Linked DNA regions of Homo sapiens. The protein of the gene in region 1 purifies or fractionates together with the protein of each later gene. This does not show direct contact. Each region holds a gene or a part of one and is shown on either strand. Other genes may lie near its edges.

The links.
Region 2: the proteins of TMEM70 (region 1) and MCCC1 purify together in Homo sapiens (affinity purification with mass spectrometry; 2 studies listed by BioGRID and IntAct, with this or other methods). This does not show direct contact.
Region 3: the proteins of TMEM70 (region 1) and CPS1 purify together in Homo sapiens (affinity purification with mass spectrometry; 2 studies listed by BioGRID and IntAct, with this or other methods). This does not show direct contact.
Region 4: the proteins of TMEM70 (region 1) and ACSS1 purify together in Homo sapiens (affinity purification with mass spectrometry; 2 studies listed by BioGRID and IntAct, with this or other methods). This does not show direct contact.

What each region holds. Positions count from the first base shown.
Region 1 is NC_000008.11:73,979,185-73,983,305, forward strand, and holds the end of TMEM70 (transmembrane protein 70, mitochondrial), read left to right. Parts: intron 1-1,970; coding exon 1,971-2,437; 3' UTR 2,438-3,599; downstream 3,600-4,121. UniProt on the Homo sapiens protein: Scaffold protein that participates in the c-ring assembly of mitochondrial ATP synthase (F(1)F(0) ATP synthase or complex V) by facilitating the membrane insertion and oligomer formation of the subunit c/ATP5MC1 through its interaction.
Region 2 is NC_000003.12:183,096,485-183,104,407, reverse strand, and holds the start of MCCC1 (methylcrotonoyl-CoA carboxylase subunit alpha, mitochondrial isoform 1 precursor), read left to right. Parts: upstream 1-4,911; 5' UTR 4,912-4,967; coding exon 4,968-5,056; intron 5,057-5,164; exon of another isoform or gene 5,165-5,920; intron 5,921-7,923.
Region 3 is NC_000002.12:210,601,576-210,608,607, forward strand, and holds part of CPS1 (carbamoyl-phosphate synthase [ammonia], mitochondrial isoform b precursor), read left to right. Parts: intron 1-626; coding exon 627-755; intron 756-3,526; coding exon 3,527-3,671; intron 3,672-5,155; coding exon 5,156-5,366; intron 5,367-6,785; coding exon 6,786-6,984; intron 6,985-7,032. UniProt on the Homo sapiens protein: Involved in the urea cycle of ureotelic animals where the enzyme plays an important role in removing excess ammonia from the cell.
Region 4 is NC_000020.11:25,048,138-25,055,169, reverse strand, and holds part of ACSS1 (acetyl-coenzyme A synthetase 2-like, mitochondrial isoform 1 precursor), read left to right. Parts: intron 1-6,988; coding exon 6,989-7,032. UniProt on the Homo sapiens protein: Catalyzes the synthesis of acetyl-CoA from short-chain fatty acids. Acetate is the preferred substrate. Can also utilize propionate with a much lower affinity. Provides acetyl-CoA that is utilized mainly for oxidation under ketogenic conditions.

The DNA.
Region 1 (4,121 bases):
CACTTGGCCAATTTTTGTATTTTTAGTAGAGACAGGGTTTCACCATGTTGGTCAGGCTGGTCTTGAACTCCTCACTTCAAGTAACCCACCCACCTCGGCCTCCCAAAGTATTGGGATTACAGGCGTGAGCCACCACGCCCGGCCTCTATTATGTTTTAATATTTCGAAGGGGTAACTTCCCCTCATTGCTTTATTTTTTTATTTTTTGCTGCTTTTGTTTTTCCAAATAAACTTTATAATCAACTTGTTTAGGATCTCAACTTTATTTTCCAAACAGATGGTATTTTTTATTAGGATCGTATTAAAATTATAAATTAAAGGTAAGGTAAATTTACATTTTAAGTCATTTTTTATTGTGGTTAGATAAACATAAAATTTTTCACTTTAATCATTTTGAAGTATACAGTTTAGAAGCCATTTTTTAAAAATAATTTTTATTTTTTAGAGACAGGGTCTCTGTCATCTAGGCTGGAGTGCAGTGGTGTGATCATAGTTCACTGCAACTTCAAACTTGTGGGCTCGAGTGATCCTCCCACCTCAGCCTCCCAAATAGCTAGGACTACAGACATGTGCCACTACACCTGGCTGATTTTTTTTTTTTTAAGCTAGTCAAATTTAGCAGTGGGGACATTGTATACCAACTTTAGTGATGCCAGTGTTAAGTTCTGATAACTCATTACCATCAGACCAGCCTTGGCTAATTAAAAAAAATTTTTTTTGTAGAGACAGGTCTTCCTATGGTGCCTAGGCTGGTCTCAAACTGGTCTCAAGCAGTCCTTCTGCCTACACCTTCCAAAGTGCTGAGATTACAGGCATGAGCCACTGCACTCTGCTAGAAGTCATTTATTTTTAATCTTTCTAAGGTAATAGGTAAAAATGGTATCTCAGTGTTTTTTTTGTATTTTTTATTATTTATTTATTGAGACGGAGTTTTGCTCTTGTTGCCCAGGCTGGAGTGCAGTGGCACAATCTGGGCTCACTGCAACCTCCACCTCCCAGGTTCAAGCAATTCTCCTGCCTCAGCACCCCCAGTAGCTGGGATTATAGGTGCATGCCACCAAGCCTGGCTAATTTTTGTATTTTTAGTAGAGACAGGATTTCGCCATGCTGGCCAGGCTGCTTATCTCATTGTTTTAACTTGAATGTCTTTCCTTACTAAAGAAATTGAATACCTTTCCCATATGTTTCTGTTTTTTTTTTTTGAGATGGAGTCTCGCTTTGTCTCCCAAGCTGGAGTGCAGTGTGCAGTCTTGGCTCACTGCAGCCTCTACCTCCTGGGTTCAAGGATTTTCCTGCCTCAGCCTCCTGAATAGCTGGGATTACAAGCACTTGCCACCATGCCCAGCTAATTTTTGTATTGTTAGTAGAGATGGGAGTTTCACCATGTTGGCCAGGCTGGTCTCGAACTCCTAACCTCAAATGACCCACCTGCCTCAGCCTCCCAAAGTGCTGGGATTACAGGCATGAGCCAATGCGCCTGGCCGTCCGATATGTTTTTTAACCACTGGTTTTATTTCTCTGGTGATTTGCTGTTTTAATCCTGGGCACTTAGCCTGATAGAATTTCCCATGTTTGAATATTTTATGTTAGATATACTGGAGTGCTTGTTAATAGAGAGTTTTGTTTGATAATCTGCTATCTGAATCAACTTTTGTAGTACAATATTAGTAAGGATCTTTAAGTAATATTAACTACTTTATTGTGGAACTGAGGTAGGGCCACTTAAACCCTAAAGCAGATTTCCTGCCTGGAGAGGCAGTGCATTCTAATGGTCAGTAGCAGGGACATTGAAGTCAAAATATGTAAAGTCCTTAAAACAGAGCTTAGAATATAATAAGCACTGTATTTATGGTTTGATTTTGTTGTCTTGAGCTGATACAGTAAGAAGAAAAATGGAAGAATTAGTGGGATAGATTGATTCTTTTATAAAATTTAAAAGTATTGATCCTCTCTCTTTTTTTCCCATTTAGGTGTGAAATGTTTCTCTTATTCTACGAGTCTGATTGGCCTTACATTTCTGCCATACATTTTTACACAAAATAATGCTATTTCTGAAAGTGTGCCTCTGCCTATTCAAATCATATTCTATGGCATCATGGGAAGCTTTACGGTGATCACCCCAGTGCTGCTTCACTTTATTACAAAAGGCTATGTCATTCGATTGTACCATGAGGCCACAACAGACACTTATAAAGCCATTACCTACAATGCTATGCTTGCAGAAACGAGTACAGTGTTTCACCAGAATGATGTGAAGATTCCAGATGCTAAACATGTATTTACCACATTTTATGCTAAAACAAAATCACTGTTAGTTAATCCAGTGCTCTTTCCAAACCGTGAAGACTATATCCATCTAATGGGTTATGACAAAGAAGAATTTATTTTGTATATGGAAGAAACCAGTGAAGAGAAACGGCATAAAGATGACAAATGAGCCTATTTGTTAGTGTTCGTGCTCAAATGTGATTTACGTTTTAATGTATAATAATAAAATTGCCTTTTGCATTCCGTTAGTGACTGATTGTTAAAAATAATTTGAAATTATCAAAGCTTTTAATTTCCAGAGAATGATGTTTGTTTATAATAAAACAAGCTATGTTTGAAAACCAAAATGTAGTATCTACCATTCGTGTTTTAGAAAGGTATGTGAATAAATATGTTCATGCTAGTATAAGAGTTCTGTGTTACTGTGGTTGACTCTAAACTGGGGATCTGATGTCAGTAGCAAATGGGAGAGTTGCTTTATTCTTTGTGTATGGATTTTTCTAAGTGTATAAATATTTTCCGACATTAAAAGACATTTTCTCTTTGAGGAAGACACAGTCATAGGTGGTGCGGAGCTGTGGTCCACCTGCTCCTGCTCCTGACTCACTGCTCTTTGCTGTTGCCTGAGGACCAAGTCTGTCAGGAAGCTGGCTAGGAAGCCTTGCAGCAGCCATGGCTTTTAAACATACCAGAAAAACACCCGTGGAGTCAGAGGTGGCAATTCACCGAATTCATATCACTCTAACGAGTTGCAACGTAAAATCCCTGGATAAGGTGTGTGCTGACTTGATCTGAGGAGCAAAGGAAAAGAATCAGTGAAAGGACCAGTTTGAATGCCTACCAAGACTTTGAGAATCACTACAAGAAAAACTTACGGTGAAGGTTCTAAGGCATGGGATCGTTTCCAGATGAGAATCCACAAGCGACTCATTGACTTGCGCAGTCCTCAGATAGTTAAGCAGATTACTTCCATCAGTATTGAGCCAGGAGTTGAGATGGAAGTCACCATTGCAAATGCTTAAGTCAACTGTTTTCATAAATTGATTACCAGTTGTTAAAAAATTTTCAAAAAACCGCAAAATTTCAAGAAATTCACAAATTATGGGAGCAGTTTTAAGTCTTCTTTGGTTCAGAACACAGGTTTTTGCCTAACCCCTGGCATGATTGCCCATAAGAACATACATGTACAGTTGAACTGGTGGTTAGCTATACGGGAAATGGTAAGTAGTGTTGTCTTCAGTATCTTAATTTGTTTCTGCAACTGTGCACTCCTCCCTTGGTGGCACCCTATGGGTGTAGGAAAACCACTGTTATTAAACAGGTGAAAAATACCTTGTGTAAAATTGCTGTCTCTATGCTAGCTTTGTCAAGAATATCCATTGTAAGATTTTTACCTCTATTGTAAAGTGGAGATTGACTCTTGCCAAGGATTTTTAGCCAGGAACAAGAGGCCTCAAACCACACTATTTAGATCAGTAGATATTTACTAAGTGCCCAGTACTGTGCTAGTTACTAAGATCACAGTTAAGAATGAAACACCCCGTCTGTCTTTATGGAGCTACCTAACATTGTCTATGGCCACCATGATAGTAAATTTAAACTTTATGGCGTACATGTGTATGAGGGAGGTTGATGGGGAAGCAGCAGGAACATCTGTTCAAAGAGATCATTCAACTCCCAGGCTGCTCGAAACTTATTCATAGGAGATAAGACAGAAAAGCTGTCTTTCTGAGACGTAGAGCCTGCCCTCTGCTTGGATTGTCCAGCTCACCAGACTGAGAATTCCCACCGCCATTCCTCTGTGCCATCTTCTGCTCAAGGTGGGTTTTTGCCTGCTTGCTTCTCTGTCCTTT
Region 2 (7,923 bases), on another chromosome or scaffold:
AGTGGCTCATGCCTGTAATCCCAGCACTTTCGGAGGCCAAGGCGGGTAGATCAGTTTAGGTCAGGAGTTCGAGACAGCTTGGCCAACATGGTGAAACTGAGAGGTGACAGCGTGCTGGCAGTCCTCACAGCCCTCGCTCGCTCTCGGCGCCTCTTCTGCCTGGGCTCCCAGTTTGGCGGCACTTGAGGAGCCCTTCAGCCCACCGCTGCACTGTGGGAGCCCCTTTCTAGGCTGGCCAAGGCCGGAGCTGGCTCCCTCAGCTTGCAGGGAGGTGTGGAGGGAGAGGTGCGAGCGGGAACCGGGGCTGCGCGCGGCGCTTGCGGGCCAGCTGGAGTTCCGGGTGGGCGTAGGCTTGGTGGGCCTCGCACTCGGAGTAGCCGGCCGGCCCTGCCGGCCCGGGGCAATGAGGGGCTTAGCACCCGGGCCAGCGGCTGCGGAGGGTGTACTGGGTCCCCCAGCAGTGCCGGCCCACCGGCGCTGCGCTGGATTTCTCGCCGGGCCTTGGCTGCCTCCCCGCGGGGCAGGGCTCGGGACCTGCAGCCCGCCATGCCTGAGCCTCCCCCCGCTCCGTGGGCTCTTGTGCGGCCCGAGCCTTCCCGATGAGCGCCGCCCCCTGCTCCACAGCGCCCAGTCCCATCGACCACCCAAGGGCTGAGGAGTGCGGGCGCACGGCGCGGGACTGGCAGGCAGCTCCACCTGCAGCCCCAGTGCCGGACCCACTGGGTGAAGCCACCTGGACTCCTGAGTCTGGTGGGGACGTGGAGAACCTTTACGTCTAGCTCAGGGATTGTAAATACACCAAGGTTTGTAAACACACCAATCAGCACCCTGTGTCTAGCTCAGGGTTTGTGAATGCACCAATTGACACTCTGTATCTAGCTGCTCTGGTGGGGGCTTGGAGAACCTTTGTGTGGATACTCCGTATCTAGCTAATCTAGGCTAATCTCCACGTCTCCAGGCTGGGGACGTGGAGAACCTTTGTGTCTAGCTCAGGGATTGTAAACGCACCAATCAGTGCCCTGTCAAAACAGACCACTGGGCTCTACCAATCAGCAGGATGTGGGTGGGGCCAGATAAGAGAATAAAAGCAGGCTGCCCAGAGCGAGTAGTGCCAACCCGCTCGGGTCTGCTTCCACACTGTGGAAGCTTTGTTCTTTCGCTCTTTGCAATAAATCCTGCGGCTGCTCACTCTTTGGGTCCACATTGCCTTTATGAGCTGTAACACTGCAAAGGTCTGCAGCTTCACTCCTGCCTGAGCTAGTGAGACCAGGAACCCACCAGAAGGAAAAAACTCCGAACACATCCAAACATCAGAAGGAACAAACTCCAGACGCGCCACCTTAAGAGCTGTAACACTCACCGCGAGGATCTGCGGTTTCATTCTTGAAGTCAGTGAGACCAAGAACCCACCAATTCCAGACACAAAACCTCGTCTCTACTAAAAATACAAAAAATGAGCTAGGTGCAGTAGTGGATGCCTGTAATCCTAGCTATTCGGGAGGCTGAGCCATGAGAATCATTTGAACTTGGGAGGTGGAGGTTGCAGTGAGCCGAGATCATGCCATTGCACTCTAGCCTGGGCAACAGAGAGAGACTTCGTCTCAAAAAAAAAAAAAAAAAAAAAAAAAAAAAAAAAAAAAAAAAAAAAACTTTCTCTGCTCTAAGACCTCCCATAATGTCTTCTAGAACTTTTATGCTTTCATCTTTTATATTTAATCTTTCATCTACTTGGAATATTTTGGTGTTAGGTGTAAGAAGTAAGCAGGGATCCAGCTTTTTTTTCCAGAGGGCTAATCACTGGTCCCAATCACTTCTTGAATTACTGAGTTTTAAAATCTAGAATGAAGGTCAGATTTTGTCAATGACCTATTAAGCCTCTGTGAATATAAGTTTTTCTCTTTTAAACTCTTAATATTCATTTTATTAATTGATTTCTTAATAGTGAATCATCCTTATACTTCTGGAATAAACCTTGCTTATTTACAGTGTGTTATTCTTTTCACATGCTACAGGATACTTCAGTTATTTTTTTTGCTTCTTTTTTGGAGACATTCTCTCACTCTGTTACCCAGGCTGGAGTATAGTGGCATGATAAGAGCTCATTGCAGCTTCAAACTCCTGGGCTCAAGTGATCCTGCCTCAGTCTCCCGAGTAGCTGGGACTACAAGTGTGCATCATTACGCCCAGTTTTTTTAAAAAAATGTTTGTGCAGATGCGGGTCTCACTATATTGCCCAGGCTGGTCTCAAACTCCTAGGCTTAAGCAGTTTGGGAGGCCCACCTCAGCCTCCCAAAGTGATGGCGTGTCCGAAATTGGTGGGTTCTTGGTCTCACTGACTTCAAGAATGAAGCTGCACACCCTCGCGGTGAGTGTTACAGCTCTTAAGGCGGCGCGTCTGGAGTCTGTCCCTTCTGATGTTCAGATGTGTTCGGAGTTTCTTCCTTCTGGTGGGTTCGTGGTCTCACTGGCTCAGGAGTGAAGCTGCAGACCTTCGCGGTGAGTGTTACAGCTCTTAAGGCAGCGTGTCCGGAGTTGTTCGTTCCTCCCGGTGGGCTCGTGGTCTCGCTGGGCTCAGGAGTGAAGCTGCAGATCTTCGTGATAAGTGTTACAGCTCATAAAAGCAGCGTGGACCCAAAGAGTGAGCAGTAGCAAGATTTATTGCAAAGAGCGAAAGAACAAAGCTTCCACAGCGTGGAATGGGACCCGAGCAGGTTGCCAATGCTGGTTTGGGCAGCCTGCTTTTATTCTCTTATCTGGCCCCACCCACATCCTGCTGATTGGTAGAGCCCAGTGGCCTGTTTTGTCAGGGTGCTGATTGGTGCGTTTACAATCCCTGAGCTAGATACAAAGGTTCTCCACGTCCCCATCAGATTAGTTAGATACAGAGTTTCGACACACAGGTTCTCCAAGGCCCCACCAGAGCAGCTAGATACAGAGTGTCGATTGGTGCATTCACAAACCTTGAGCTAAACACAGGGTGCTGACTGGTGTATTTACAATCCCTGAGCTAGATATAAAGACTCTCCACGTCCCCACCAGACTCAGGAGCCCAGCTGGCTTCACCTAGTGGATCCCGCACCGGGGCTGCAGGTGGAGCTGCCTGCCAGTCCTGCGCCGCCGTGCGCTCGCATTCCTCAGCTCTTGGGTGGTCGATGGGACTGGGCGCCGTGGAGCAGGGGGTGGCGCTCATCGGGGAGGCTTGGGCCGCACAGGAGCCCATGGAGTGGGTGGGAGGTTCAGGCATGGCGGGCTGCAGGTCCCGAGCCCTGCCCCGTGGGAAGGCAGCCAAGGCCCGGCGAGAAATCGAGCGCAGCGCCGGTGGGCCAGCACTGCTGGGGGACTCAGTACACCCTCCGCAGCCACTGGCCCGGGTGCTAAGTCCCCCATTGCCCGGGGTCAGCAGGGCTGGCTGGCTGTTCCGAGTGCGGGGCCCACCAAGCCCACGCCCACCCGGAACTCCAGCTGGCCCGCAAGTGCCGCACACAGCCCCAGTTCCCGCTCGTGTCTCTCCCTCCACACCTCCCTGCAAGCTGAGGGAGTGGGCTCCGGCCTTGGCCAGCCCAGAAAGGGGCTCCCACAGTGCAGTGGGGGACTGAAGGGCTCCTCAAATGCCACCAAAGTGGGAGCCCAGGCAGGGGAGGTGCCGAGAGCAAGCGAGGGTTCTGAGGACTGCCAGCACGCTGTCACATCTCAATGGGGGGTTACAAGACATGAGCCACAGCACCCAGCGTAGTTAATATTTTATTTAGAATTTTTCCACTGATACTTACATGTGAAATTGGTCTGTCGTGTGTGTGTGCGTGATATCTTTGTTGATTTTGGTATCAAAGTTATGTTTACTTTTTAAAAAGAGTTTGGAAGACTTCCATCTTTTTTGTGCTCTGGGACAGAATTAATAGCATTTGAGTCAATTACTCATTTGTGTGGAATTTTCTTGCAAGACATGGAGGGCTTTTGTAACTTTTAGGGGTGAAGGTGAAGGTGAAAGTGGGCCATGGTGGTAGCAAGGATAGTTCTTTGATAAACTTCTCTATTTTTTCTGTGGTAACGGTTTGCTTAAATTTTGTCTCTTCCAGGATCTATTTTGATAAATTGTATTTTCTTGTAACATCATCCATTTCATCCAGAGTTTTAAGTTCACTTGAAGTTAAGCAAAATTAGCATCTTACAAATCTATAATTTGTTTCCTGTGTCTGTGATTTTCCCCTGCTTGTTTTTTAAATCATGTCAAATGTGCATTTTTCTCTATTTCTGATTAGATAACTATTTTATTTTTTGTGAACCTGTGGGTTTATTAGTCCTTTGACACTGGTTTCCTGAATTCATTTATTTATTCCTTTATCTTCCCTAATTTCTCCCTCCTGCTTTCCTCATGAAGCATCTACATGTAGTGTTTACAGTTTCTTTATTCTCTAGATGTTCCTCAGTTTGCTCTTTGACTTCCTCTTTTTCCCAATAGTCAGTTAGAATACCTGTTTTAAGCTCAGGTGGTTTAAAGATTTTCACTTTAGCTTATTTATTTTTTCATCCCTGAGAGCACTAGAGAATTGTGTATCCTGCTGTCCATCCGCATTTGGCTTCTTCCCCAGGGTTCTTCTCCCAGAAGGTGACGAGAGCGAAGAAACCCCACGGGATGCAGGAAGAAACAGTGACAGGCAACCAAGAGGGGGAGGATGGAGAAAACCCTTGCCTTAGTCAGAGCAGGCCCCAGGGGACGCAGAAACAAAGGCCACACCCCCACGAGCACGTGGCCAGACTGCCCAATCGTCGCTACTGAAGCCGGGCTCTGGTCTTTGATTGGTGTTCGTGGAGACGCCCTCACATTCTTGGATCAGCCCAAAGGTAGGCTCAGGCTCCGACGGTGGCCGGCGGGGGTCACGAGGCTTCGTAGTGGAGGAACGGGTTTGGCGTGTGGGACGCAGCTGCCTCTGTACTGGGGAGTCACGGAGTGGCCGGGCTCCAGGGACATGGCGGCGGCCTCTGCGGTGTCGGTGCTGCTGGTGGCGGCGGAGAGGAACCGGTGGCATCGTCTCCCGAGCCTGCTCCTGCCGCCGAGGTGGGTGGAGGGGCCATGGCTCAGTGGGCAGAGGCGGGAGCGAGGGGTGCACGGACCCGCGTGAGCGGTGGGAGGTGCGGCGGAACCCAGGGTCGGTGTGGGGAGGACGGTAGGAAAACCCCAGGCACTTTCGGAGGGGTTCTGCCGGCAGTCACGGCGTCGGGAGGAAGACATCCCCACCAGCCCTTCCCTTTCTCCCCGCTTCCGCACATCCACGCTTCAGCGCGCCTTTGGCTTCTGTTTTTCCATTTCTGAGGACTGGGCCCGCCATCCTCCAGGCTCCCCTCGCCGTCGCTGCAGCTCGTAGCCGTTTACATCGGGCTTTCGCAGCACCCCTTAGGTGGGAGCGTTGTTATAATCCGGTTCCGGGGAAGCCCAAAGGGATCAACGACTTCCTCAACGAAACACAGCTAGTAAGAAATGGGGCCGGGATGCCCTCAAAGCCATTTTTCAGTTCAGCTGTGCCCCATCAGGTGTCCAGTTCAGAGAAAGACTCCTGGAGTTCCTTCTCATTGTTAGAAGAGTGAAGTTGTCAAGAAGAGCAAATGTACCTTCCACAGAGCTGGGAAATTATTTTGTCAAAAACTCTTGTACCCAAGTTTGAACAACGCTATCAGATGACTCAGTCTAGCTCACCTGACTCCAGCTCTGTTTCAAATTTTGAGCTCTAAGCTTTGGTGGCAATAACTCTGGCAGTGAAAAAACCCTCAGGCTTGTAGATAGCTTTGCTTCTTTGTCTTCTTTTGCTTCATCGTTATCATCCTTCATCATTCTGGAAAGATTGACAGTTTAGTGTTCAAGGGCACAGACTCTGCAGTCAAGGCTGAGGTCTTAGTTAGCTACTCACTAGGTGTGTGACTTTGGGTAAGTTACTTAATATTTCTTCTTTAATTTCCTCACCTTGGAGATGATACGAGTACCTTGGGTTGTGAAAACTAAATGAATTAATTCATGGAATGAGGTTTAAGCACAATCTGGTACATAAGATCAGTCTATAAATGCAAACTCAACCATTTATATGAACGTTTGCTTGCTTTTATTTTCCAGAAATATTGTAGATGCCCTTTTTAGTTACTTAATTGTAGGAGTGCCCCAGAGAAACATAAGAAAGTTGTTGGAAGTTGGCGGGGCGCGGTAGCTCACGCCTGTAATCGCAGCACTTTGGGACGCCGAGGCGGGCAGATCACGAGGTCAGGAGATCGAGACCAACCTGGATAACACGGTGAAACCCCGTCTGTACTAAAAAATACAAAAAATTTAGCCGGGCGTGGTGACACGCGCCTATAGTCCCGCCTGTTAGTCCCAGCTACTCGGGAGGCTGAGGCAGGAGAATGGTGTGAACCCAGGAGGCGGAGCTTGCAGTGAGCTAAGATCACGCCACTGCACTCCAGCCTGGGCGACAGAGTAAGACTCCGTCTCAAATAAAAAATAAAAAAATAAAAAAAAAAGTTGGTGTAAGTAATGTTAATGTTCTTCTTGTTCTTCTGGTTTTTCTTTTCTTAGGCCTCCAGGGCTCTTCAGGATAGTACCATAGACCCATTTCCTGTCTTCCCTTTCAAAGCTTAGCTATTGTCTAAAGAACTATCCTCAAGTATGTCACTCTGGAGAGTGTTAGAGTTGTTAATGGCTTATAGAAGTAAAACTCTTTGCCAGGAGACTTGGTTCATGCCTGTATTTTCAGCAGTTTCTCAGCACTGTGGGATCCAAGGTGGGAGGATTGCTTGAGTTCAAGAGTTCAAGACCAGCCTGGGCAACACAGTGAGGCTTCATCTCTACAAAACATTAAAAAATTAGCCAGGCGTAGTGGCACACACTTGTAGTCACAGCTACTTGGGAGGATGAGGAGGGCGAGGACGGCCTGAGTCCAGGGGTTCCAGGCCGTAGTGAGCCATGATCACACCACTGTACTCCATCCTGGGTGACATCCCATCTCAAATAAAACAAAAACAAAAAAATCTTAACAGCACAGATAGTTTACATTATTTTTATGTTATGAATCTTTAGTAGCTCACAGAAAATAATCTCTGGTGGCAGAATTATAGACATGACAATAAGCTGGTATAGAGCTACCTTGAATCAGGGAAGCAGCTTCTTTTTTTTTTTTTGAGACGGAGTCTCGCTCTGTCGCCCAGGCCGGACTGCGGACTGCAGTGGCGCAATCTCGGCTCACTGCAAGCTCCGGGGAAGCAGCTTCTTAATCTTGTTTAAGCCATTGCTTTTAAGTTGCAGCTTAGATAATTGTGAAAAATGGAATAGATGATCAGAACATTGTTGGGATAGTGGATTACAGTTAAGTGGGATCTCTGTCTCTTTCTCCCTCTTTTTCCCTCTCTCCCTTCTTCTGTCTTCACTAGAAGATTGCAAAAGAAAGCTTTAGGTCAACAGTAGCCTTGAAACCGAATCAGTCTTAAGCTAGCTTTACCAACAAGCAACCATTTAATAGATACATCTGCCCAGAATAGGCCTTGAAACTTATCAGAAGCCTATCTGAAGAATGTAAAGGGAAGACGATGCTATGAGCTAGAAAATACCTCATAAAGATCAGGAAAGATGATCCCCCTCCTTCAGGATCAAGAAGGTAACATCAGCTGAAATGGAAAGGTGTGGGAAAGCAGCAGCCTCGTGAGGAAGCTAGCTCACGGAACTCTCCTGCCAAAGCTGTGGGTCTTCCCAGCAGCTCCTCATGGATGGCAGCATCTGAGTGTGCATTGTAGGGCAATGAGTGTATAGACGCATATAGATGTGTAGATGTCTACTGCATCTCCGCTCCAGTGAAATACTAGTCCTGCTCAACTACATAGTCATATACATAATATGTATATACTACTGCCTAGTTACATAGTTTCTAATGCACACGCTGTGCTTTT
Region 3 (7,032 bases), on another chromosome or scaffold:
CCTTGCTTCCTCAGGAAAAGAAACAGGCATATGGGAAAGGTGTAATTACATTCCCATTGGTAGTGTAATAATATTCCATGACAGAAAAATATAGCCACCATATGTTGTATTCTGTAAGTTAAAAAAAAGAATTCCAAGCTTCTGGGACTATGCTCAGACTGAACTTGAAAATGAAAAATCCATTTATATACAGTGTTCCTAATGGCTTATTGTGGTAACATCAAGCTAGCTTCAGCAGCAGAGAACCTGGTTTCATTAAGACAGAGACTTTTAAGCTGCATGTAAAAATCGTAAAAATCCAATAATTCAATATGGCTGCCATTCTCAAATGAATGATGATTATTTCTGCTTTGACCATGGTTCTGTTTCAATAGGACAGGATAAAATTTACCGCAAAAGTGTATTTCTTAGAAGATATATATATATATATCCTCCCTTCTAGAATTTTACTTAACATTTGAGTAACAACACTTGCTTTTCAGAATGAGATGAGGGAATAATAGAACATTTCTAGATTCACTCTCCCCACATAAGTTGGTTTACCTGATTGCCAGACTCTCTTGGTGTGGTCTGTTCTGCCAGTGTGCTCAGCTTTTAAAATGTTGAGTCCTTGTTCTTGTTGACAGATTGAGGATGCACTGAAGGCAGCAGACACCATTGGCTACCCAGTGATGATCCGTTCCGCCTATGCACTGGGTGGGTTAGGCTCAGGCATCTGTCCCAACAGAGAGACTTTGATGGACCTCAGCACAAAGGTATGTATTTTTGTAGACAATATTCTTACCAACCAAAAAAACTGGCTTGATAGACCTTTTCAACTAGAGAAAGTTATGTAGATGAGAAATTACATTTTCTTTATTAAATCATGATCATGTTCTCCAAAAGCGTATTCCAAAAGATGACACTTTTGCGAGAGCATGCAGTGCAACTCTTCATGCCAGGATGCAATGATAAACCACATGGTTCAAGGTAAACCAGTGGTCACTTTACCTCAAATTCCACTTTTATAGTACAATCTATTGACTTCAAGGAGATGAACTTAATTCAACTCCTTCTTCCTTTGTTTCAAAATCTACTCTCAAATATTTAAAATGCTAAAATATGTTTTAGTGGTTAAGGAAAAATAGGACATAATGTCTCATTTTTAATTTTTTAGAAATAATGTGGCTGGCATGGGTGACATCCAGAAAGTGAAACAAAGCACATTGAGTAGTTTGACTTTACTCAAAATTAAGGTGTCTAAAATATACATGGTATAAACCACTCAATACAGTAAATGACTGAACTCCACCAACTGCCATATACTCATAAAAACACGAGAGATTTGAGGGTTTATAATTTATTTTCTATCAAAATCACTTTAACATATTAGGAACTACTTCTTTCTTTGCATGTTAGAGGAAAACTCTTGAGAAAAGTAAGCTATGCTACAAAAACTAAATTAGAGACTAATGCAGAAAATATGCTCCAGGAAAACAGAGACTTTTGTCTATACTCTATTTCCACAAAATAGAACAGTGCCTGGAAATACCAGGAGTTCAATAATGTCTTTGAAGAATGATTACACGTGCAGCCAAGAAACCTGTGTAACTTACATGGCAGTCATAGAAGTGAATTTGACAGAATTACTGTAAGGGCTATTTTGGGAATTATTTAGGAAATAGCTCACGGACAGCTTATTGCTTCATCTTTACTTACTTTTTGAACTGAAGTGAAATGAGACCCTTGAATTGTTGACATAGAATTTTGAAAACAGATAAGTACAATTCAGCATATTTAAATAACTACAATGGCAGACTTACATATAAACAACTTGGGTTTCGTTTTTCTAAAGTTGTGAAAATTACAAAAAAGGGAAACATACCTCACATAAATGTTTCTTGTTACCATTCTGGACATATGAATCACATATTTAGAGCAAAAACATGTTTTTGAAGATAGAAAGTTTATTTCCTCTAGCATGTTAGAGGCTCCAAATATTTTCAATATTAACAACTTCATAACTGCCAATTGTGACAGTGTATACATATTCTCTATTAATTTTTTTACTCTATAAGAAACCAATCTGAAGACTGAACTTTTCATGTAAGAAAGTTTATAATAAAGAGAATTTTGGAATGAAATAGCTTTCAATTATTTATATTGTACTCAAATAATCAATAGTCCCTTAAATGGTTTTTCTTGTTGAAAAAAACCCTCGCTCTTCCCTTGAGAATAATTAGTCATATCATTATGTCCTAAACAATCCCCTATTCTCTTGAGGTTATAATTAGCACCATTAAAAGCTGCATTAACTTATCCAGGTCCCTAAATTAACTTTTTACATAAAATCGAAGACTTCAAAAAATAAAAATAAAAATAAGCTGAGGAAACAGGTGAAGATAATTTCAAATTTTCCCTGTATCTAAATATCCATTTTACTTCATTAGAATGCAAAATACTTTTCCAAATTTATACCCTTTGTTTCCTAGATTTCTTCTTTTAGCAGGCAACCGGAATGATGAATTAATCATTATTAAATTGTTAACATTGGCTACTGAATTTTCTAACCACTTTGAGAACCTCATCGTGGGCAGCTGTGGGGACAAATGTGTCACATTTTCATTTGCACGTGCTGGAGCCTGTAGTGATGACTGAAGTTTAAAAAAATCCTATTAAGGCACATTACAGAAAAACTTACATTAAATTATTATTTTAATGCCTATTAATAATTTGAAAAAATTCAAACTGCTTTCCCTTTCACTGTCAATCCAAATCAAATATATTATAAGACAATAAGACATTTCTCCCTTGGATTATCAGCCACTGCATGTCCTAAGGTCAAAGATTACCACTTTCCTATTTTGGGTTCAGTATTCTACCCATTGTGGGTGTGCCGTAAATATGAAATTATAATTATGCTAATTCATATCTGTCTAATCAGGCATACATGATATATGACTCAGAGTATTTAAGCATTTAGGCAGTGATTAACCATAATAATAGTCCCATATGATTCTTCTAATTCTCAAGTTTTATATGCCATCTTGGCTAACCGTTTACAACCATCATCATCTCCTTTCTCCTCCTCATCAACATCAACTAACTTTTATTGTGTGTGTCACTGTACAAAGCACCCTCAGCTATTTTAGAGAGAGCCAGAGTCTTTAGACTTATTTTTCCATATTTATTCACACTTATCACATTTTCTGGTTTCACAGAAGCCTAGCTGCTGAAATAATTTCATTTCCCTCTGCCTGATTGCTCAATTATTTTCTCTTTTTCCTAAATTAGTTTGATTTACTGTCATATCAGCACTTTGAATGGCAAGCCTCAATAATGTAAATCAAGCATATTCACTGCAGGATGCTATTCCTAGTACCTCACTGATTTTCTGACACATTGTGCCTTCTGTGCAGGGGAGAATGGAGACGGGGTTTGAGAGTTCAGTGCTGACCAGGATTTATGCCAGGGTATTTTGCCAAATATCCTTGTTGAAGCCAGTGCTTTTTCTTACTCTTTGATATCTTTTGTCACCAATTTCTAGGCCTTTGCTATGACCAACCAAATTCTGGTGGAGAAGTCAGTGACAGGTTGGAAAGAAATAGAATATGAAGTGGTTCGAGATGCTGATGACAATTGTGTCACTGTCTGTAACATGGAAAATGTTGATGCCATGGGTGTTCACACAGGTAGGCAAAGTATCTTCAAGAACTATAGTAATGCTTTCAGTTCATGTCTTTGATGGCCAAGGCAGTCTTTATAAAGTTGTTGCCTTTAAATTACTATTTCTAGTTGACAGACTAGTGATAACATTTTGGACAAGCATAGTATTTTACAGTATTGAAAATGTTCTCACATTTAATTTGATCTTCACACAAACCCTGTGAAGTAAGGCGGATATTACACTGAGTTAATTGAGGAAGAGCCAAAGGTAAGCAATATGGTAGAAATAAGATCCATAAAACTTAGTGTTGAGAAATAAGAAGGGAGGTTGAGACAGTTTAAAGCAGACTGAGCTGGTAATCACCCAGTAAATGAGAAAATAGGCACAATAATAGAAATAAGTTTTTCAGAAAAGTACACTAGTTAGATAAGAGGGCAAAGATGATAACTTAGGATTTAAAAGTGCTAAATTTGGGGTGTGAGCAGAGCTGTCAAAAAAGGGAGTTGAGAATGTGGAGATGGAATTTAAGAAATAAAATAGAAATAAATAAGTTGATACAAAGACACTGGAAACTGTTGGCATAAAAGGGGAAATTGAAGTTGTAGGCATAGACAAAGTATTCAAGGACATAGGTATAGAAAGAGGAGAGAATAGGGTTGAACTTTGAACTCTGGGAAACATTTAGATTTATAGGGCAGGGGAAAGAGGAAGTATTACTGTTGAAGATAGAAGGGGAGAATAAAGAGTTAAGAGGAAAATCAGGTAGTACTGTACCAACTAAGCCAATGCAAGAACTATTTTATAAAAGAGCTTTGTTTTTGGCAGTATCAAATGCTATGCAAGACCAAGACTGATTATTTAATTTGGCTCTTTTGGATGTCCAAGAGAACAATTTCATTGCAAAGTCAGTTCTGTGAGCTCTATTAAAAGGAATTACATGGTATCAAGTGGTAAGCAGAATTGGCAAACTTTCAAGAAGCTCATTCATGTAAAGAATGAGAGAGAAGCTTTGTATGGTTGTCTGGCAATGTTGGGAGAAGACTTCCGGAGGCAGTGAAGATCTGAGCGTGTTTGAAGGCAGAAGGGATGGAGACTAAGATTGCAGATATAAGGGGCTATGATGAGGGAAGTGAAGATGGAAAGGGATGAGATACAGAAAGCCAGCTGATGAGCCAGTCTGAGTGATAATATTCAATGAAAGGAAGAACTTCAGAAATAATTTGAGATGAAGAGCAGGGAAGTTGAAGTCAATCTAGTAAGTAGACGATTGAAGCCTTGATAGCTACTTACTAGATAGATGAACTTGGGAAAGGTTAGAGAGGTTTCTAAAAGTACTGTATCAGAGTAATATGGGCAAAACAGGAATTGGGGGAATACCTGATATCACATATATATCCCAACAAACCCTCAGACTGTTCTATGTCTTGCATCGTGCAAGTAGATGGTTAAGTCGCTGAAGTTGGTTATTTCAATATGCCACCAAGTAATGAGTGCTTCTTGGATATATAGGTGACTCAGTTGTTGTGGCTCCTGCCCAGACACTCTCCAATGCCGAGTTTCAGATGTTGAGACGTACTTCAATCAATGTTGTTCGCCACTTGGGCATTGTGGGTGAATGCAACATTCAGTTTGCCCTTCATCCTACCTCAATGGAATACTGCATCATTGAAGTGAATGCCAGACTGTCCCGAAGCTCTGCTCTGGCCTCAAAAGCCACTGGGTAAGACCAGAATAATTGACCATGGGTTTGCAGATTCTTTTCAGATAGAAATGAAAAATTGACAGATAGTGGAAGACTGTACTGCATTTACAAACTATGTTCCCTTTTTCTGTATGTTAGCTCCAAATCATTTATAGCACCCTGAGGACATGATTATTAATGAGCTTGTTGCCAGATTGAGGTAAATTATATTGCTAGCTGGCTTTGTTTGCAGGCTAATCTAAACGAATCAAAATCTAGGTGGCTAAAGCAGGCTGTGAAAAATCTGCTTCCTAATTGCACTTTGCAGATGTTGTTAAAAGTGCAGATTAATCCTTAATTTTAGTCTTCAGCTGTTTTCTTCAGGTGTATAGCCCTATAGCAAATAGTTGACAGAAAATATAGCTCACTTGACTCAAGCATGCAATACACATTACTTTTATTTTATCAAAACTCCACAAGACTGAACAGTGCGGAATTTTTTCACAAGTAACTGTTACAACCAAACAAATACATCTGCTGTCTATGTAACAGCCACTAGCAGGCATGATTGGAGGGAAAGGTAATCAAAACCTTTGGTTTCTAATAATATATTTAGCACCTTACACTTAAATTATGGCATTTAAATGAACACAATATTTACTTCTTTATATTTTTTTTACGTAGTTCCACAGCACTGCGTGGAGTGGTGAAAGGCATGTTGCCCTGTACAGGAGTCACAATTCTGCATTCTCACTTGGTTCTTCTGTTGACCGTGTGATTTTGAGCACATCACTCATTGTCTTTATCAGTTTCCTCATTTGTTAGGTGGAAGTTGTACTAAAGAACTCATTTTTAATTCTATAGTTCTATGAATTATTTTCTCAAACAGAATAACCCAAACTGACATTCTGGATGAAGATAGTCAAGTTCTCAAAGTGTTAGTTTTGTAAGGAGCCCAAAGTTCAAAGATAATTTGGAGACAGAGCAAGGACCCAAACTTGAAATGCCTACATTTTCTGACCATTATGTACTCTCTTGTACTAGCTAACTCCACTGTATTCTTAGGTACAGATATGTATATGTACAGATATGTATATATTTTCTCAAAAAATATTTTGCAGATTCTCATCTTAGTGGAGGTTAAATACAAATAAAGGTTAAACTTTATTTATCAATAAAGCTATCGATTTTGGGTTGAAGAGGTGAAGGTTGAGCGTTGTAGCAATGCATGTAGTGCACAGAGAGTAAATTCTCCTGTGACCTGTGCCTCTATACTTTGTATCATGACTCCTATTATTCCGCAAGTGGCTACTAAATATTGATGCAGAACAGAGAATCAAGTGTCTTATACCCTGAAGTAGAATAATACCAGAAATTTTAAGAAAGACCAATTTATGTTTTGGTCTGTTTTCAATAATTGCTCGAAGAAAAAAAAATAAATTTGTCTTCTTTTTATAGCTACCCATTGGCATTCATTGCTGCAAAGATTGCCCTAGGAATCCCACTTCCAGAAATTAAGAACGTCGTATCCGGGAAGACATCAGCCTGTTTTGAACCTAGCCTGGATTACATGGTCACCAAGATTCCCCGCTGGGATCTTGACCGTTTTCATGGAACATCTAGCCGAATTGGTAGCTCTATGAAAAGTGTAGGAGAGGTGAGTCCTTGGTTTATTACGCTTTTCTTCTTGTTCTCAGTTATTTTG
Region 4 (7,032 bases), on another chromosome or scaffold:
ATGTCAAAGGGCAAAATTAGGACAAATTTAGTTTAAAGACCTTACTTCACTTTATTCGTGATTATAGAATTGGGAAACACCCCATTCCATAAAACAGAAGGAATGTTTGATGAGCTGAACAGAGGAGGATGGTTTTATAGACAGAAGGGGCTGAAGGATGCAGACATGGAGAACAAAAAGTGGACTGGTTATTTCAAAGCTACTTTTGTTGTAAAGGTGAAAGTGGAAGGAGCTCCCTTATCATGCCAGCTTGTTTGGAGATTTAGCTATCTTTCACTCTCCTTGTTTCTTAGAAGGTCGGATAAACAACTTAGTTTCCATTTGGTGACACCGCACTTTAGCAAGAGTGACTCCATTTTTGTGTGATCTATTGGGCCTCATGCAGCTCAGTCCAGACCAGTGGCCTCCTATACATTTTATTTAACACTTGCTCCTGCTCCTCAGTGTCTGAGGTTGGAGTCATCTGCCTGTTTCTCACTCCCAAGTCTGGAGCCTTGTTTGGGACAACTTGCAGGCTGGCTTCAGCCAGAACTGTGGCCCAAAGCACCTCCTGGGGCTTGTCACAGCATGGTGGCTGGGCCCAGGCAATTTCCTGCAACCAGAGGTCCAAGAGACCAGCACAGATGTTATCAGGCATCTTCCGACCTGGGGAAGGGGACCTGAGTGTTTGCACCTGTTTTGTTATCCATGGGAGTATCTATCAGCACACCCATCCCAGGGCTGTTAGAATGAAATGAGGAAATGCTTGTAAGGCACTCAGCACTTTCTTAACACATTATACATCCCCAGTCACTGACTATTTGTTATTTATTAATGAAGCATGTGGGGAGGCTGTGACCTTGTGCTTGGCCTTCGGCAGTGCTGCTGAGAGAGCTGAGCTTCATCTGAACTGGACCACATGGGCTTGCATCTGATCAGCCTGGGATAGGTGGGGAATAGGCTTCGGAGAGCATGCAGGTGGCTGAGGTTGCTTTCAAAGCTCCACAGTATCCTGCCCATCCCACAACTCCAATAGCCAGTTGAGGTTATGGTGTCTGAGACTCACTGGGCAGGGTAGACAGAGTGTCTGTGCCCTTCTGTGACTTGCTTCTATTGTGTAAAACTGCCTTGCAGAAGGTTCTTTGGAGAGCCAGGTTCTAAAAGGGATTCTTTCCCACCTGTGAAATTTGGCTCTGTCCTTTGTAGGGCTCTGCAGCTCTTTTTGCCCTGTGGCATATCAACTCAAGATGTCAGGAAGTTGTAAATGCAGAACCAGAGGGTAATGACATGTGTTGCTTTCAAAACACACAGCTAAGCTCTATTTTTAAAACCCCCAATTTTAAGTGATGTTTTTCAGTGTGTGTACTCTTAAGCAAGAGTGTAAAAATCCTCTTTGTAACCAAGCATTGAGCACTGGGAAATTTCTTGGATGCTTTTTGGAGATTAATTGCAGGAACAGAGGCCCTTTTGCTGTAGTTCCTCTGTGTTTGCTGTAGTTTCCTCTCTGTGGCATGCCTCTAATCGTTCAGAAGGCAGGACACTGACAGCGGCAAGACGCTGTGCGCCTGTGCTTCATTTTCCTCCTAGTGATTCCAGTGATTAAAGTAACTTTTCTAAGGTTTTTCAGGGAACTCTACATGAAAAAGGAACCCCTAATCTTAGGAGGAGGATCCTCCCGAGGAATCCAAGTCCTCCCCAGCTGTCAGGGGCACGACTTACTTTAAATAACAGATGCTTTGGGAAAATTGTCCAAAACAATTTTTGTGACTGACGTAATATCTCAAAGCCTGCCAGGGAAGATTGCTATTAAAAGAAAGTCCATTGTGGGCCAGGCGCCGTGGCTCATGCCTGGAATCCCAGTACTTTGGGAGGCTGAGGTGGGCAGATCGCTTGAGCCCAGGAGTTTGAGACCAGCCTGGCAACGTAGTGAGAACCCCATCTCAAAAAAAAAAAAAAAAAATTAGCCGAGCGTGGTGGTGCATACCTGTAGTCCCAGTTACTTGGAAGGCTGAGGTGGGAGGATCCCTTGAGCCCAGGAGGTGGAGGTTGCAGTGAGCTGAGATCACGCCAGCGCACTCTAGCCTGGGCAATGGAGTGAGACCCTGTCTCAAAAAAAAAAAAAAAAAAAAAGCTCATTGTGAATAGTAACTCCGTATTCAAATTGAATTTCTGTATGCTGGGTTCCACTTTCAGTTAGGGTGTGTGAGTGTGAGGGATGTATTTAAATAAGCAACAAGAGTACTTGAAAATTCGTACGTGTGTGTCAGGATTGTAATGGAAATCCCAATACTCTTATAATGCCTTTTTAAAACAAAATACCAAACCCCTGCCCCAGCCACGGGCATTGGCCGACTGCGTCCAGCTGTGTTAGGCCCTGGGTGGGGCCCTGGGCATCTGTGAGCGAGATGGAGCGCCCTGGCTGGCCGGCCCTCAGCTCCGCATGGCTTGTCGCATCCTCATGGCACCAACATGAAGTGGTTGGTGGTCCCATTGCACAGATTTGGAAATAAAGGCTCCAATTCATGTACAGCAATGAATAATCCAGAAAATGCTCAATACCACAGAGCCCACATTCTAATGAGGAGATGAACCATAAGTCAGTAAATGAGTAAGTCCACACTGAGGTGGGAGGGGAATTGTGATGTAATTCCCAACGCCAGTCTACATGATAAAGGAATCTTAGGGACACAGTCCCTGCCCTTGGGGAATGGCATTGTGCCCTGTAATGGGGACCACCAGGGAGCATGGGGCAGTGTGAAATGGTGTGGGCCTCTGAGAGGCGAAGGACAGGTCATCCATCATGTGCTGGGAAACTTGGGAAAGGCCGGAAATAGGAGGTGGAGTTTCAGCTACACTTTAAATTGCCATGGGTCCTTGCCCAACTCTTCTTGGAAATGCTGAGAAATGGAATTTTCTTGTCTCACTGCCCATTTCTTTGGGCAGATTTTTTTTTAAACTTTCTTTTCCTCCTCCCTCTCTTCCCCACTTCCTTCCTCCTTTCCATCCTTCCTCACCTTCTTACCTCCTTCCTCCCCCTCCTTTCTACCTTTTCATCCTGAAATTGAAGCACTAGCAGGAACCATAACTATGTGCGAAGAGCCATGTGCACATGGGTGTTAGGGCCACTGTCCCCCAAACCCCACATGGAGCTTTCTTCAGGTGCCTGTGTGGTCTGAGCACCAGCCATGGTGGCCAGAACAAAGATGGGGGAGGGTTGTTCTGTTTGCCTTCTTGGGGGACACCTTGACTCCATCTGACCCACAGCCAGAAACAACCCAATGGCACCTAGTCCTTCCAGTCCCACCCAGACCAAGGATCATTATACCCACTCCAAGGATTAGGAAATGGGCTTGGATTAAATGATATGTGCATTGTCTGTGGTTAGTGAGTGGCTGGACAGGGGCTGGACTTTAGACCCTGAGTTTTTAGTGGTGACTCCAGGCTGCCAACCAGTGGCTCATGAGGCTGGCAAGTATGTGTAATCACCCCTGTCCCAAAGGAAAAAGAAAACCATTGGAAATCTTGCATCTGCATAGAAAGGGGATGTGCATGTAGGTCCATGTGCACACATCGTCAGAGTCGGGTCCCAGGACCAGCAGCGGCTGCATCACTAGGATCTTGTTAGAAATGCAGATGCCCAGAACGGGGACGGGGCACACTGGCTGCAGCTAACACGTCCTCTGGGGACTTCTGATGCCACTCAAGGTTGAGAAGCACTGATTTGGGCCAAAAAAGAGAATGTCTTCTACTTAAGGGATGAAGCCACAAAGACAAGAAGAGGTCTGCTCCCTCCCTTGGGCATGAGGGGACCACCTGGTGCCAGTTACACCTCAATATGACCCTTTGGCTCGAGGACGCAAGTGGTCTGTTCCTCAGCTCTGTGCTCTGGACCAGGCTACCTGAACCCAGACCTGAGCAGGACACTCAGCCCTCGCCCTAGGGAGCGCAGCAGGCAGTGAGCATCTGGAAGAGTTGGGGGATGCGCAGGGTCTGGGACAGTGAGGTGCTCGGGAGAGTGAGCGCCTTGGGCTGAGAGCTGCAGTGTGGGTGTGAGGAGGGCACAGTGCCCCAGGCAGGGAGAAGCCACAGCAAAGGCCTGAGGGCAGGGGAGCTCACCAGATGTGGCCCGGTCAGCAGGGAGAGGCAGGTCATTGGGGCCTTGGTGGCCACTTTTTGAGCACCTCTGCATGTGGCGAGGCACCTGGGGGACACTGTGTTTGGGGCTCTGTTCTGATCTGCTGGACCCAGGCCACCTGTCAGCCCTGGAAAGACAGGGACACAGGGCTTATCTCACGGGCCACCCAGCCGCACCTGGGTGCTGTCCATCCTGGGGCTGGCCTGCCCCTCTCCACCTTCCTCACCTCTGCCTTCCTGCTTGGTATAAAATGGTGCAGGATGTCCTGCTGGGCTGGGAGGCTGTGAGGGCCTGTTTGAAGTTGGGCAGTCACTGTTTCTGAGAAGAGTGTCCTGGTGCCCTGGCTGCTGTGGGAGCAGGTGAGGCGATGAGATGAATGCCAAGGCGAAGTGTCCAGCGTGGTTCGAGCCCTTCCTGCTTCATCTTGGCTGGGGCCTTGGGCAGGTCACCAGGCCATGCAGAGGGCGTTTGCTCATCTACACCTGGGCAGGCCACTCTTCCGGGGGGCTCCAGGGTCAAATTTGGAGTGGAGCAAGTATGTCAGGCAGAGCTTTTCAGATATGAGAGTGGGTTCACATCTCCTGGGGCTTCTTATGAGGCTGGTTGGGACTCAGCAGGTCTGGGTGGGGCTGAAGATTTGCATTTGTGACCAGCTCCCGGGGGGGATGGTGGGTGCAGACAGTGTCGATCCTCAGCTAGACATTCCCAGGCTTGTCATAGCATCATAGAGTCACTGGAGGTGACAGGCAGGCAGCGGGGTGTAGGACTCTCTGTGTAGGGATGGTCTCCTGCTGATTGTTCAGAAGCCAGAAGTCCATGGCTTTCATGTGAAAGCTCTCGATTTTTAAATATTGGACTGGACTCACACACGCATGCCTGCACACCCTGGTCAGGGTGGTTAGCACAACTGTATGCTGGACTCAGCCTAGGGACCACGTTGGCTAATATCTGCTGTACCCGTGTATTAATTTTCTCCCTGGCAGTTGTGTTGTTTTTCCATCTCCTTCAGGGTTTACATGTTCCTGTCGCCTGCCTGAATTGGCCTCACTATTCTTCTCAACTGTTCTGTCTTCCGTCTGTAAGACCAAGCCTGATTCATCCCTCCTCCCCAATTCCCCCACTACCGGCAAAGCTCGCTTCCCTCCCACTTGTTGCATAGAGCAGTTCTTCACCGCCTGGTGAAGAACTGGACTGTTACCGGGGGACTTTGGAGGGTGGGGCGGTGGGACAGACTGTGGAGCCAATCTGCCTGCGTTGAATCCAGCTCTGCCTCTGTGTGACCTTGGCCAGGCAGCTTAACTTCTCGGGGCCTCTGTTCTCCCATCCATAATGGGAGATGCTGGTGGTGCGGGCGCTGTCTCCGTGGAGGCTCTTGCAGTAATTATTGTTTCAGCCCCAGGCTGCTCTTGACTTCCCAGGGTTTGCCTTCCCAGGGTAAATTCAGCTCCAGTGCCCTGTTTGGACAAGTGTCATGAGCCTGCCGCCACCGGCCTTGTGTGTTTGGTCACTTTTGCATGTTTCTTACGTTTGCATCTGTCTCCTGCACCCATGGCAGGGGCTTCGAATCTGCCCTGGCATTTCCCTCAGTGTTCAGTGTGGGGCCTTGATCAGGATTGGCACCCAGGACTGGTTGGGTTAAACCATCTCAGGGTTGTATGCTCCTTCTTTTTGCTCCTAAGAGACTCCCCAACACCCAGCAAAACATTGTGGGGTTAATGCTACACTTGGCATGACCACAGTGAACAGAGGTTAGCACCCCCAGCTCCCCAACACACACAGAGATGTTGTGTAAATTCAGGTCTGCCACTGATCCCCTTCTTAGTTTGTCTTCTTGTTTTTATTTTCTTCTATTTTTTGGGCATGTCTTCTCTTTTATTTTTCTGTTAATAGTAGTTCAAAGAACTTTCCTGTGTCTCTTACTAGTATTAGTAATTTTTTCCTGGAATCTGTCTACATTTGTTACATTTTTTGAGGTGTAATTTACAAACAGGCTACAGGGGTGACCCTGAGAGACCAGGTGGGTGGGTGCTGCTGCCCCCAAAACCATTCATGGGGCTCATGTCCCTGCATACCTGGGGACCCTCCGATAAGCCAGTGAGTGAGGAGAGCTGGCTTGAGGGTTGCCAGAAGGGGCTCAGCTTTGGAATCTAATGAGTAGTGACCAGCCTGCCAGCGGAGGGGCCCCGTGCTGCTAATCCTCAGTCTCACGGTGTGCCACAGAGCTGTTTCTGCCGGAGGGTCATGTGTGGGAGCTTGGGTAATGGAGAGGGAGGGAGCAGAGCCTTCTGCAAAACCAGGACATTTCCCCATCACGAGCCACTTCTTGGAACAAGGCTGGTTTACTGGGTGCTCGTGGAACACGTGGGGGAGTTGGGTCCTCGTCCCTTCTTGCACCTTTAACCTTGGGGGCAGGTCAGCACTGGGCACATGGGAACTGCAGGAGCCAAGCCCTGAAACAGGAACAACCTGTTTGCACTGAGTGTTCTTTCCAACAGCTTAGGCTGCAGTGCCCAGCCCTGGCTGCACATCAGAACCAACCATGGGGGCTTTGAGGCTTTGAAGGCCCAGGACCCATTGGATGGGGTCTCTAGGGGTGGCCCAGGAGATGCCAATATGCAGCCAGGGTTGGGTCCACTGGTGTGAAGCAACCACTTCAAAATATTTGCAGGACATCACCTTGTACCTCTGAGATCATGTTTGTTCACCCTTCTCCTTGCAAGGGGGTAGAAACATCATCACTGATGAGGACAGGGTCTCTGTCAGTGGAAGAAGAGAGAGCCACAGCAAACTAGACCCGCTCCAACCCCTCAACCTGGCCGAATTCTCACTCAAAAAGCACCAAGTGTAACATCCGCAAACCCTCTTTTTGTACAGTCAACTGCTTGGACCAGCATGTTCGGAAGTCCCCCGAGAGCGTT